Homo sapiens: one gene and its partner. The protein of the gene in region 1 interacts with the protein of each later gene in a biochemical or structural test. Each region holds a gene or a part of one and is shown on either strand. Other genes may lie near its edges.

Evidence for each region. Proteins that work in one complex are often made in the same cells at the same time.
Region 2: the proteins of BLVRA (region 1) and PRKCZ form a complex in vitro, tested with the Homo sapiens proteins (one study listed by BioGRID).

What each region holds. Positions count from the first base shown.
Region 1 is NC_000007.14:43,782,535-43,786,286, forward strand, and holds part of BLVRA (biliverdin reductase A), read left to right. Parts: intron 1-3,752. UniProt on the Homo sapiens protein: Reduces the gamma-methene bridge of the open tetrapyrrole, biliverdin IXalpha, to bilirubin with the concomitant oxidation of a NADH or NADPH cofactor. Does not reduce bilirubin IXbeta.
Region 2 is NC_000001.11:2,144,303-2,148,054, reverse strand, and holds part of PRKCZ (protein kinase C zeta type), read right to left. Parts: coding exon 3,714-3,752; intron 2,669-3,713; exon of another isoform or gene 2,544-2,668; intron 2,029-2,543; coding exon 1,947-2,028; exon of another isoform or gene 1,750-1,946; intron 1-1,749. UniProt on the Homo sapiens protein: Calcium- and diacylglycerol-independent serine/threonine-protein kinase that functions in phosphatidylinositol 3-kinase (PI3K) pathway and mitogen-activated protein (MAP) kinase cascade, and is involved in NF-kappa-B activation, mitogenic signaling, cell proliferation, cell polarity, inflammatory response and maintenance of long-term potentiation (LTP).

The sequences.
Region 1 (3,752 bases):
GTTGAAATGCCTTGGGAATGCGGCTTGGAAGAGAGGATGGCCCACAGCTCAGGATGCTAGGGTCTTTGGCATAGAGGTGGTCATGGAAACCCTGAGAATGAGGGACCCCCATATTCTGGGGACATGGGAGAGAGAGAAAAATAGAGGGATGAAGACTGAGCTTTGGGAAATATGCACATCTTGGGTAAAATGAAGAAAGAAAGTGAAATGTGAAAAGAAAACCTCGGTAGCATGAGGTAAGAGAAGAAAGGAAGGAGTGAGTTTGAAGAAGGTCCAGGTAAGGGTCACTCATGTCTGAAGTCCAGGAGGATGTGGCTGAGAAGAAGCCCTTGAATGTGATGAGAAGGTCTTGGATGACCCACGGTGAAGCAGGGAGGTATGGGAGTGAAAACCAATTGCAGCAGGGCCAGGAGGGGTGAGAGGAGTCTGGGGCACTTGGGGTCATTGGACAGGGCAGGGGCAGGGGCAGCAGAGGACTCTGAGCACTGTAGAGGGAGCTCCAGGAAGGGAAGCGGGAGTGAGCCAAGGCGCTATACACTGCAGAATTCTCACCTTCCTAGAGCAGCCCTCTGATATTTATGTCTGTTTTCAGTGGTGGTTTATATTTTAGATAGTGAATACATTTGTGTGATTCTAAACTTTAAAGAGGAAAAAAAGAAAAAAAAATATTTTCTATGAGAAGCCTTCTTCCCTCCTATCCCTGTTTCCCAGCCACTCTGTTTTTCTTGCTCCCAGCAAGAGCATGTCGCCAGTTTCAGTGTTACAGGTTTCTGGGCTGTCCTTTCAAAGAGATTCTAAACATAGACAGTATCTTTTTCCTTTGGCTACCACCCCTCCTGTTACTACACAGACTGTAGCACACAGTGCACACTAGGCTGTCGTTTGCTTCTTTCACCCGATCATCTATCTTGGAGACCAGTCCCTTTCAATATATAAAGGGCTTCCTCGTTCTTTTATTTTTATATTGCCATGTAATACTCTATATCACGAGTCTATCATAACTTTCATAGCCAGCCTGTTATTAATGACATATAGATTATTTCCATCTTTTGCTTGTTATAAGCAAGGCTGCAGTAAGCCTAAGTCACTTGACTTGTGTAGCTCTATAGGACACATTATCTTACAGTTGGATTTACCAGAACAAAGGGCATTTGCATTTTAATTTGTAATAAATATTTCCAAGTTGCTCTCCATAAAGCAGGTTCTTCTCTCCCTCCTGCAACATATGAACATACCTGTTTCCCCAGGCCAACCAATGTGTTATCAAACTTTTTTTTAATTCTTGCAAATAGTGGATGAAAACGACTAGTTTGTTCTGTCCAACTGCCTGGACTCTCCTTCCACCTTTTCAGCACCTGCCCTCATGCCTCACCTTGAAGTTTTTCTACAGTGATTTTACATTTTCTTCTACCCTCTTTATCTCAAAAAAAATTTTTTTTCTAAGTTGGCAGAGCACATTCCTAACTATGAACTCCATTTTTGCATCTGGAGTGCCAAACACCAGCTTCTCTGAGTCCAAGGGTGGGGGCGCAAGCTCACTCTGTGACTGTGATTTGGACCTAAGTGAGTTTTTTAGTCACTTTGCTGTGCTTATGTGTCCTTTTCTGCTGTCTCAAAACTGCTCCTGTTCTTTGTTCCTTAAATACCACCTCTATAGGGCTATTTGTAGTGGCATTTTCCCAAAGGTTCAGGATAGCAGAGCACAGCAGACAACTGAAAATGGAACTGTGGATGTCCTGGTTTCTGGAAGTCCATTGCTCCCTCCTCCACTGGGCGTTTCTCACTGGCTTCCTTCTCTGCAGATTTTAGCCTTTTGCTAACCTGCGTGCACTTTCCCCTTTCCTCTGCCTCCTACTGGTTCCTAGCCCCAAAGTTTTAGCTGCTACTACAGAGTGGTCTAGCCATCTCTGATTTGCAGTTTCCCTTCAGAACGCACCTTCAAGATCCCTCATGTAAAATGAAGAGGCTCACGTTAAAAGGCCTAACAAGTAATTTTTCTCAAAAATAAAGTTCTTCCCCTAAGAGCAGCTTGACTATTAAGATACCAGTGTCTTCACTCATATCTTTTTTTTTTTTTTTTTTTTTTTGAGATGGAGTGTTGCTCTGTCGCCCAGGCTGAAGTGCAGTGGTGCAATCTTGGCTCACCGCAACCCCTGCCTCCCCGGTTCAAGCGATTCTCCTGCCTCAGGCTACCAAGTAGCTGGGGTTACAGGCACCCGCCACCACCATACCTGGCTAATTTTTTGTATTTTTAGTAGAGGCAGGGTTTCACTATGTTGGTCGGGCAAGTCTGGAAACTCCTGACCTCAAGTGATCCGCCCACCTCAGCCTCCCAGAGTGCTGGGTTTACAGACATGAGCTACTGCACTGGGCCTTTCACCCATATCTTGTCCCTGTGTGTCAGTTTTGCAAGGCAGTAATATCGAAACCAAATCCTAAAGCAGTTTATAATTTAGCCTGACACACTGTGCAAGCCAGGTTTTGTATGCAAGTTTGTGTGTATCATTAACTAATGAAATCTTAAAAAGCAGTTTGGCTTATTTATAGATAATGGAGCTGTTTCTTAACCTTGTGCCTTTTTTTTAAGCTGGTAGAAGCATATCCTGGTTATTATCTGGAATGTAGTAATACGGTAACCTTAAGAATGCCATAAATATTTAACCTAATAAGGGGATTGCTAGTCTTCTTTTCTTGATTGAAAGGGAAACAAATATTAATATTTGATCATTAATATGTGTTTTGGCTGTACAGATTTCTCCAGAGGCTGTCTTACTGCTTTTTGGTAATTAGAAATTACCAAAAAAAAAAAAAAAGAAAAGAAAACAAGACTAGTAACCCAAAAAGGACTTACTTGGTGAAATTGTCAATTGTCAGTTGGGCACTGTGGCCACTCCTTCCTATACTCTTCCCTGACTTCCAGAAGAGAAGCCAGGAACTAGGTCTCCCAGAGTCCCCTTTTATATGTGAAGTCCACTCCCAGGACTCCCAGGAAACTTGCAAGGCTGAAGAAAGAGAGGCAGTTAGTCATAGGAGACAGTTCAGTCAGATGTGTGAGCCAAGGCCAGTGTATGGTTTAGCAGCAGTGGACAGTCAGGCTCTGTGAATCACTCTTCCCAAGCTGCAGGCTGACAGAGGCTGAGATCCTTTCCAGACGTCTTGGCTTCTGGGCAAGTTCTGGAGAATCTCTCGCTTCAATATTGAATTGTATAACAACAGTACAAGGTCTAGGAGAAAAGAAATGGAAGTGTACTGTTGTCAGGTTCTTTATAGTATATGTGGAATAGTGCATAATATTACTTTAAAGTAGACTGTGGTAAGTAAAATATATAATATAAAATCCTTAACTTCTGAAAAAGAGTTATAGCTAATAGCCAACAAATGGGATAAAATGGAATCATAATAAATATTCTAATTAATCCAAAATAAGGCAGGAAAAGAGGGGAAAAAGAACAGATTGAACAAATAGCAGGATTTCTATAGAATTTGAATGGAAACCCAACCATATCAATAATCACAATGTAAATTGTCTAAACGTTTCAACTAAAAGGCAGAGATTGTTAGACTGAGTAAAAAAAAGCAAGACCTAACTATATGCTGCCTATAAGAAACTAACTATAGCTATGAAAACACATATAGATTAAATGTGAAAGGTTGGGGAAAAAATGTATTATGCAACACTGATCAACAGAAATTGGGAATGGATTGTTAATATCAGACAAAATAAATTATAGGGCAAAAAATATTACCAGGAA
Region 2 (3,752 bases), on another chromosome or scaffold:
AGTGGACAGTGGATGGATAGATGGAGAGGTCAGTGGACAATAGATGGATGGATAGATGGAGAGGTCAGTGGACAATAGATGGATAGATGGAGAGGTCAGTGGACAATAGATAGATGGATAGACGGAGAGGTCAGTGGACAACAGACGGAAAGATGGAGAGGTCAGTGGACTACAGACAGATGGGTGGACAGGTCAGTGGACAACAGATAGATGGACAGATGGAGACGTCAGTGGACAATAGATGGATGGATAGATGGAGAGGTCAGTGGACAATGGATGGATAGATGGAGAGGTCAGTGGACAGTGGATGGATAGATGGAGAGGTCAGTGGACAACAGACAGATGGGTGGACAGGTCAGTGGACAACAGATAGATGGACAGATGGAGACGTCAGTGGACAATAGATGGATGGATAGATGGAGAGGTCAGTGGACAATAGCTGGATAGATGGAAAGGTCAGTGGACAATAGACGGAAAGATGGAGAGGTCAGTGGACAACAGACAGATGGGTGGAGAGGTCAGTGGACAACAGATAGATGAACAGATGGAGACGTCAGTGGACAACAGATGTGTGGATAGATGGAGACGTCAGTGGACAAGATAGATGGATAGATGGAGAGGTCAGTGGACAACAGATAGATGGAAGGAGAGGTCAGTGAACAATAGATGGATAGATAGAGAGGTCAGTGGACAATAGATGGATAGATGGAGAGGTCAGTGGACAACAGATGGAAAGATGGAGAGGTCAGTGGACAACAGATAGATGGGTGGAGAGGTCAGTGGACAACAGACAGATGGATAGATGGAGACGTCAGTGGACAAAAGATGGATGGATAGATGGAGAGGTCAGTGGACAATAGACGGTTGGATGGAGAGGTCAGTGGACAATAGACGGATAGACGGAGAGGTCAGTGGACAATAGATGGATAGATGGAGAGGTCAGTGGACAATAGATACATGGATAGATGGAGAGGTCAGTGGACAACAGATGAACGAATGGAAGATAGCTGGAGGATGGGTGGGTGGAGGATGGCTGGCTGGCTGGCTGGATGACGAGATGGATGGATCGTGGATAGATGGATAGGTGGTGGATGGATGGAGAATGGGCGGGTGGAGGATGGCTGGTTGGCTGGATGAGGGCTGGTTGGTTGGCTAGGTGGGTGAATGGATGATGTACGGATGAATATCTGTATAGAGGATAGGTGGGTGGAGGAGCAGGTGGGCAGGCAGTTGTTTGTGAGGCATCTCTTTTGCGTGAGGCACTGTGTGAACTAAGTGCTTTATGTTCTGTGGTCTCATAAGTGCTTTATGTTCTGTGGTCTCCCAATGAGACAGAACTCACATGCATCAAGTGAAAGTGAGGCTCTCACACCCCCGTGCAGAGGTGCAGGTGTGGAGGCTCAAACCTGGGCTGTAAGTCCAACTGGTGTTTGAGATCTCTCTCTGAATGCTTCTTAGCAATAAAACAAGTCCTTCCCCACAACAAACAAAACCTCACAAAAATCCAAGGACCATGCCACTGCCACGCTGTGTGTGCAGCAGCCACCTCGCCAGGCTTTCCCCAGATAGGGCTCAGCTCTGTGCAGCAGCCAGATTGTGGGAGGTGCCCGGCCATGGTGGCTGCTGCACTAAGTGCCTTCGAGAACTCCCGGAGCTGGTTAGAGGAAGAGGCTCTGCACCCCTGGGCAACCACAACAGCACTTCACGGAGGCATCCCTGCCCAGCAGCCTCCAGGGAGGGCCAGCTCACCCTGCTCATCTCTGCCGGGGATTGAGAGGAGGCCCTGGAGAGCCTCATCCCCAGCCCCAGGGAAGGGTGGCCAGGCTTGAAGACAATGACCCCTGCAGAGCAGATGGGACTGAGAAAGGACTCGTGGCTAGAAGGCAGAGGTGAGCAGGGTGAGGTGATGCCCAGGCTCTACCCGGCCGGAAGAAAGCAGCGCCTACTTCCATCTGTCTCCTCGGAAGGAAGGTCGGCGTCCTCGTTCTTGTCGTCTACTGGAGGCTCTTGGGAAGGCATGACAGAATCCTGCCGGAGAGACACAGAGATGGCAGCATGACCAAGTGCTAGAGCAGGTGTTACAATGTAGCTTCTGTAAACACTTTGTGACTTTTTAAAATTAAGAACTTTTTTTTACAGACAGGGTCACAGTCTGTCATCATCCAGGCTGGAGAGCAGTGGCGCGATCACGGCTCACTGCAGCTTCAACCTCCTGAGCTCGAGCAATCCTCCCGCCTCAGCTTCCAGAGCAGCGGGCACTACAGGTGCGCACCACCATGCCTGGCTAATTTTTGTATTTTTTTTGTAGAGATGGGGTCTCACCATATTGCTCAGGCTGGTCTTGAACTCCTGGCCTCAAGTGATCTTCCCACCTTGGCCTCCCAAAGTGTTGGGATTACAGGTGTGAGCCTCTGCACCTGGCCACTTCAAGACTATTTATGATTTACATATTTACACATTACAATGGGTATACTGTAATATAGTATATAAAAATCTAATTGTTATGCTATTTTACTGAATTAGATAAAGAACATAAACATTACCTATGATTCTGCAGACGGAGGTGGCCACTCGGTACTGCAGGCCATGACCTTTCCACCAAGTGCTTTATACAACGGGATATTTTGCACAATGCTTGGTCATCTCCCCTGTCCCAAAGCTGCATCCTGTCAGTAACCAAGCATCAGGGGGCCATTCTAAGGGCCTCTGGGTTCCGCCTGCAGATATGTCATAATGGAGCCACCAGTACTGGTGGTCAGCTGGGTGGCAGGCTCTGGCCTCCCTCCGCCTCTAGCTGACCACATTTCTGGGGCCGGTCTCATTTGCTTACGCTAAAGTGGACCTATGAGGTCAAAGGGCATTACAGGCTTTTTGGCAGATGCAGCTGAAGGACCTCTGGAAGGACTGTGCCAACGCATGCACCAGCCTGCGTGGTCCCCCATCCCTGTGGCTGGTGATCCTGGGGTGACACCCTGATCCAGACTCTGTCTTTATCCCGTAACAGAGGAGAGGGCACGTCACTGCCACAGGCGCCTTTCCTCCCATGCCACAGCAAGATGCAGACAAGCCACCCTCCCCAGACACACCCACTGCACGCTGCAGCAGGGCCCAGGGAGTTGAATGTTCAGTCCAGGCCTCACCCCCGTGGTTCAGTGGGATGCAGGGGGCCACACGGAAATGCCAGAGGCAGCCTTCAATAAGCAAAAGTCAATAAGGCCCCCAAAGGCCTGGATGCTTCAAGTCCAAGCACTCGGGGATGGCGGAGGGAAGGTGCCGCCCTCATCACAGGCTGGGCATGGCTTCCCAGGGGGGATGCCAGGGAGAGGCTCCAGATGTTCGGAGCCTCAGCGTGCCCAATGCTACTAGGTCAGACCTGGCTTTCACCTCCACAGTCCTTAAGAGCTGGTTCAAGACTGGGGTATGAATGAACCTTACCTCCGACCCACTGAGCAGAGCGTACCACGTCCTACCTGAGCCTGCTGCCTGAGCCTCATGCCCCAATGAGCAGAGTGTGCCGGGGGCTTGTGGGGGCTCAGGAAGATGGGTCCTATCCAAGACTGCCGCCTGAGTCTCACGCTGCAGCCCAGAGCTAGGACGGCACCACGGCCCCTCTTGAAGAACCCAGGGTCACCAAGGTCTGCTTGGACAATGGGCTGGCTGCCACGCCCCGACCCCGCCCGTGCCCCCCGGGCCTCCCCAGCCCTGCCACTCACCATATGCTTCCTGCAGGTCAGCGGGACGAGGCCGTGGCA